Linked DNA regions of Homo sapiens: region 2 is reported to be linked to region 1. The links are microRNA targets in miRTarBase. Many come from high-throughput screens and were not tested one by one. Region 1 holds a microRNA gene; the other region holds the end of a gene's coding sequence.
The links. Region 1 holds the annotated microRNA hsa-miR-4526 (GCUGACAGCAGGGCUGGCCGCU, at 850-871, shown strand). A microRNA usually pairs through its seed, bases 2 to 8, with sites in the 3' UTR of a target mRNA and lowers its output. Matches are read on the target gene's strand: a 7mer-m8 pairs with bases 2 to 8, a 7mer-A1 pairs with bases 2 to 7 and ends in A, and an 8mer does both.

Region 1 (3,119 bases):
CACTCTGTCGCCCAGGCTGGAGTGAAGTGGCCCTATCTTGGCTCATGGCAACTTCTACCTCCCAGTTGCAAGCAATTCTCCTGCCTCAGCCTCCTGAGTAGCTGGGATCACAGGCGTGTGCCACCACACCTGGCTAATTTTTGTATTTTTAGTAGAGACGGGTTTCGCCATGTTGACCAGGCTGGTCTTGAACTCCTGACCTCAGGTGATCCGCCCACCTCGGCCTCCGAAAGTGCTAGGATTACAGGCTTGAGCCACCGTGCCTGCCCCACAAAGCCCTAATTTTAAGAAACAGACAGGTACAGTGGCCTACAGCGCTCCTCACTAAGGCCCTGGCTTGAGGGCAAGCCTATCATGTGACTGAGCCTGACCAGGAAGTGCTGGCCCAGGTGGCAAGGAGCCTCGGGGCTCCAGGGACAAGGGGCGCTGGTAGCCAGGGAGGGGCGGCTTGAAGTGGCTGCAGCTTCTAATTCTTTCTGAAGCTGCCTCTTTCTGAGGGTGACTCCCTCTTCATTCACCCAGCAGGGTGACTCTGAGAAGTCAGGGAAAGTCTGGCACAGGGAGGGGAGTTCCATTTTTAATTCGGAAATTGCTCAGGAAGAATCATACCATCCGGATTTCCCTCGCGGCTGTATATTAATAAATGGTCACTTTCCTTGCTGAAATTCTCTGGTTTCCTTTTATCCACGTGAAGCTTCTGGAAACTCTTCTGGGTGGTTCTTCTGTTGCTTTTCTGCCCCTGCCCCCAAAAATGAGAACATGAGAAAGTGATGTCTTCTAGCCACCTGGAGGACCCTGCGGTGACATCAGGGCCCAGTCCCTGCTGTCATGCCCCAGGTGACGTGCTGGGCTGACAGCAGGGCTGGCCGCTAACGTCACTGTCCTGGCTTCTAACGCTGGTAGTAACCAACAGAGTTTAGTTTTGCTTTGACAACTCCTCCTACAGCCAAAACTATTGTTATGGCCCACATGTCATTCCTATTTACCCTAAATAAGGAAAAACAAAGGCTATTCTGGGCTCCCGGCAGTGCTTGTGGTGGGGGTTATTTGCAGCGTTACCATGGCAGGCTGCCCTTTCCACCACGGCCACCCCGTGATTTTCTCTGAAAACTGCGACAGACTCGCAGCCTGCCCTGAATTTTCTTCACACAGCCTGGGGGCATCCGAATGCACGGGAGATGTTTTACACTCAGATGAAACAAACTGTTTAGACCTCGGGGAAAAGAGACTGTGCTTGAACAAAATGAACCAGGAGAAAGCGCCCTCCTGAGACATGTCTCTGCTTTCATGTTTGAATTGCCTGGGATTCTGTTCTCTAATTTCTGATCCTTATAAACTAAAACTGCCTAGGAACATTGAGCATCCTGACTTTGAAGGAGTCTCTGTGGTGTTTTTGTGCTACCATACATGGGGAATAATGATGTGAGGCAGAGGGAGAGGGAATGAATGGGAGAGCCAAGAGGGAAGAGCGAGCCGGGGGGAAAGGAGCGCGCAGTGTTTCCTGCTGCGGTTAGGACCTCACGCCTTGCCAGTACAGAGCTCGGTGGCAAGAGCCGCTGGGAGCTGCTCCCATCAGTTAGAGGATGTGGAGAGGGAGCACCAGAAGAGGACAGCCCGCAGCCTGGCTCGCAGCCTGAGGGACGCTGTGGGTGCTCCCAGCCGGGCGAGCACGCTCTGGGAGCGGATCTGCAGGGGAGAAGCACGCGAGCCTAACGTGAGCGTCCCGCCTGTCGCGTGTCCTGCCTTGGTAAGCGCCCTCTCCGGTCCTTCCACACTGAAAGCTTCCAGCAGAGATCAAGGGAAGGAGTATTGTGTGAGACTTGCAGATTTCCTCCTTTCTGTCTGGACTGGTTTGATATTTGCCTGTTGAAAAGATTACTGAACGCAGTGTGACAAGATGAGCCGTCTAGCTGCGTTCTGCTTGCCTGTGTGTGTGACACGTCCAGGTGTGAGGCCAAACCTGAGAAGTGCAGACTGCTCACTGATAGACGTTGCTGTAAACAGTAGTGCCCTGGGTGTACAGCTGGTCTCAGGATCGGAGACCCCGGACTTATTCTCTGCTCGGTGACACGGCCGGCTTCCTGCCGCAGAGCTCCTGGTTTCTGTTGATGGCAGTTGATAATTGGTAGCCACAGTCTGCGGTCGGAGCCACAGCATTTGAGTCTAGCACCTGGGGTGGGCCCTGCTGATACAGTAGAGAGAGAGTGAACGAGGCAGACAGAAACACACCCCCCCCCCCTCCACGCTCACACACTCTCCCACACCCCATGCCAGCTATAACTGCAGCTCTGAGCTGCCTGGAGAGGAGATTGCCGGAAGCTGAAGGGATGCTTTGAACGTGGGGGGGCTGCGTCACAGTTGGACTCCCACTTGCAGAGGACCTGATTATGTCCAGTGACCACCTGAACAACAGCACACTGAAGGAGGCTCAGTTCAAAGACCTGTTCTTAAAAAAAGGTACATTTCCCAAGAACTGCTATGGATGATGCATGCTCTTTCGGGTTTGCTGTGGTTCTTCTTGGAGTTTGGTCTGAGGACAGAGCTGAGAAGAGGAGAAGCTCTTTCTCAAGAAGTTTCTTTCTACCTAAGAGGGGTCTGTCAACTCAGAACATTTCCGGGTGGGACTCCCTTTAGGAAGATGCATGTCAGGCTTTTTCATCTTCTTTCAAGCCTGGAATTAGTTTGTTCCTGTTGGAGGTGTTATGCATGAGTACACAGTTTGTTGCTTTGGAGTTTTGTTTTTTTCAAATGTCTGTATATAAGGCTGAGACCTCCCCTGGAAATTCTGCTACTTGTTAATAATTCCTTTTTCTTCACCCTCATGAGCTGAAAACTGCATTTTAAAGAAAAGGTATTTCTCAGGATGTGGCTGGTTCATTGAACACTTTCTTAGGTCATCCATGTAGTGACAGGAGCTATTAGGAAGGAGAACTGTGACTCTGAGAGATAGAGAGCCAAAGAAAGTGAGAGACAGACAGACTGGCTGTGGGATGAGAGCCTCAGAAGCCACCACTCTCCCCTGTGGAAATGAAGGTTCCATTCCATGTGCAGCTGTGTTTTTTTTCTGATGCACTTTCCTAAATTAATAATGTGGAGGTGGAGGTGAGGGTGGATTTTAA
Region 2 (3,069 bases), not on the chromosome of region 1:
TGGCACATGCCTACTGGAGGCTGAGGTGGGAGGATCTCTTGAACTGCAGGGGCTTAAGGCTGTAGTGAGCCAGGATCGCACCCCTGCACTCCAGCCTAGACAATGGAGCAAGGTGGACGGATCTCAAAAAAAGCCACTTGGGCTGAATCTAGTGAGACTGCAGAATTTATGCCAGCCTGACCTGTCACTGTCATTTCTTCCCTGCAGACTCTGTTTGCTGGCTACACGGACAACCTGGTGCGAGTGTGGCAGGTGACCATTGGCACACGCTAGAAGTTTATGGCAGAGCTTTACAAATAAAAAAAAAACTGGCTTTTCTGACTTTTAGGTTTTTTTTTCTTATATGCAAAAAAGCTCCATTCTATCTACATTGCTTACACATTAAGTTTGCACTAGCGAACTGGATGCAAGGTATGGACTAAGTAAACAAGGCTTTGAAGGGGAGCTGTCCGTCTAAGTTCTCAGGATTGGGGTAGCATCAGGTGGGATGTTTGTGAGAAGTCACATAGCAGTTTCCCTGAACTTAAACCCCATCAGCGTCCTACATACCACGTGCAGATCATCAGGGCCTACCTTCAACCTGGGGAACCTTCTTGAGGGAAAGAACTGATTTCAAAGTGGTTGCAGTCAATTTTTAGAAAAAGCAGACTCCGCAGGTCCAACCCCTGACACGTAAGAGTGGAAGATGAATCCTCATTCCTCTAAAGATTTGAACATAATTCAGAAAACTTAAGCTTCATGTTAGCAGTCTCTGTCAACATGGTCTTTGAGGAAAGTCAAGGGTTTTTAATTCTTTAAGCAAGGCAGTTCTCACCAGAAGAACTTAATTCAAAACTAATTTATTCCTCAGGTCAAAAGTTTTGGGGTGGTTGGTCTGGAAGCATTCATAAATAGAACCATAAAGTTGGCCCTACTAAACATTTCAACTGCTACTATAACCTGGCCCTCAATCCCCCTACACACAAACACAGTTTATTCATGAGGATAGATGCCTTGTGAAAGGCCAGAAGTGAGCCATTAAACTACAATTACAGTTTCCAATAGAAACCTCAGTACAGGGATGGAATGGTTCAACATGCGGCTGAGACCCCACTACCCTTGCAATTTTCTGTGCTAAGCAACTACAGCATATTGAAGGCCCACATGCACCCTCCACTTCCTACTCCCCTCAATTTATAATGGTGATGAGGCATTTCTGGCTTCAGTTTCAACTACGTGTGGCAAACATCTCTAAGTAGACTGAACAGTTAGTAAGTTAGGTTAAGATATTAAAATGGGGAGCAGGGTCCACATCCCTGTTGAAATAGGAGCCTGCCTGGTAACAGGTGCAAAGCATGCCTTTAACTGCAACTAACCAGTTCAGTTGTGTGGCTTCTCACTGCAGGGGCGGCAAAGGAAGAAATCCTGAGTTACACCCTCACCTGAAGGAACAGACCTCACAAGAGAAGCAAATAAACATTTTATTTCCACAGCACGCCTTCCCTTTTCCCAAAGAACATGAGTTCACCTCAGCCATCAAAGCAGAGGGCGAAAGCTGCAAGTGACAAGGCAAGAGGCTCCTAGAAAAATAGATTATACCCAAGGCTCTCCTCCTGGGGACCCAAACCCGTCCCCAGGCTCCCCCTCAGAGCTTGCCAAATGGAGTGAAAGGCATGGAAAGGGGCTGGGAGAAAAGCCAGCTCCACTGAACAAAGGGGAGAGGAGCCTGGCAGTGAGCAGACCTGGGAGGGGTGTGGGGTGGGATGAGCTTTGCTCCTTGGTTGAGTGCTGGAAAAGGGAAGGGGGAAGAAATAATTTATGTTGATGTAATTAATGTAATGATGATGTAATGGTGCGTGGTTTCAATCATGGCGACCATTCCAGATCTCTCTCAAGTGAAGCTAAATTCTGGCCGGTCTATGGAGGTAGAAATTGAGGACGGAAGGAAAGTTTAGAATCCCTCCTCCCCAGGAGAATAGACATTTATTACCCAGCTCTACCCTTTGGCCCAGCCTGCCTCCCCAAATGGCTTCCAAATCCCTCAGCTAAAATCTGCATCAGAAAATGGAATTGGAATGGGGATGTTGCCTTGCCCAAACCCTCCAGCCTCAGAACTGATAAAGAGGTTGAAGAGCAGGGGTGGGGAAAAGGAAGTTAAGGAATGAAATTACAATTTCCCCTCATCCCCTACTCAAATTCCAGTCCCAGGGCTGGGCTAGGCAGACTGGGAGAGAAGACCAGGCAGCTGTTCTCATTATCAGGGACCCATGCAGACCTGTTGGACAGACATAGTAGGTGAGAGAAGGCTGAGCTGGAGGCCAGGAGGGTTCTTTAGGCTCCTAGAGGGAGAAGCAGGGGCCTGGGGTCAAGGGGGAGTGGGAAGCAACACAGTAACAAGCAGTGGGAAGAGCCTTTGAGCCCTCAAACTTACGGGCCACCCTCCACCACCCACCCCCCAAGTGCTGACAGAGGGGCCCCTGCGGGTGGCAGGATAATCAAGGGCAGAGCTTGATGCGGGTGCCCTTGGAGAGCACCCGGAAGAAAGGAAAGACACGCTCGCCCAGGAAGGCAGCCGAGAAGGTGTGCACGTGGGCTAGAGTCTCTGCGTTGTAGAAGCCCAGGCGCCCAGCTTCATAGTCCAGGTACACACCAAAGCGCCTTGGTTTCTCACTGGGGCTCAGCAGCGTCTGTTCTGTGGAGCTCTGGGCCTGATAGCGTTTGCCGTTGGTGCCCACGCACCACACTTCCCGCTGGAGCAGGGGCTGCTGGGGCAGGTGGAGCCGGCGGCGGCGATGGTGATGGCGCGAGGAGCTGGCATCCCCGCTGCCCACGGAGGAACCCCCAGGGCCCACCTTTTCCTTATGATGGGTTGATTCACGGGCAGCACCCACCGCCCAGCCCCGCCGCCCGCCCACCTCTACCTCCCAGTAGTGCCGGCCGGAGCGGAAGCCCTGGGCCCCCAGTACGCAGCAGTCGGCCGAGAAGCGCTTGGGATGGTCAGCAACCTCCTGCCGCCGCTCTGCCAGGCGGACCCCCCGGCGGTCAGGGGACAGCATCAGGGCCGGGTGAGCCGTGTCAGGGTCCAGCGTC

Region 2: the mRNA of TRIM41 is a reported target of hsa-miR-4526. Seed matches in the 3' UTR shown: 7mer-m8 at 2,442-2,448.

The regions. Positions count from the first base shown.
Region 1 is chr18:13,610,318-13,613,436 of GRCh38, forward strand. It overlaps MIR4526 (microRNA 4526), which reads left to right and starts at 797; the gene lies at 797-883. The region is part of intron 4 of LDLRAD4 (low density lipoprotein receptor class A domain containing 4); the gene reads left to right. RefSeq lists enhancers at 2,307-2,536, 2,957-3,119.
Region 2 is chr5:181,234,181-181,237,249 of GRCh38, reverse strand. TRIM41 (tripartite motif containing 41) reads right to left here. Exons shown (of 6, transcript NM_033549.5): 6 at 1,442-3,069. The coding sequence ends at 2,475. RACK1 (receptor for activated C kinase 1) reads left to right here. Exons shown (of 8, transcript NM_006098.5): 8 at 208-353. The coding sequence ends at 273. Among named protein-coding and RNA genes, the nearest start is that of SNORD96A, 6.2 kb to the left of the region's middle. RefSeq lists an enhancer at 1,044-1,123.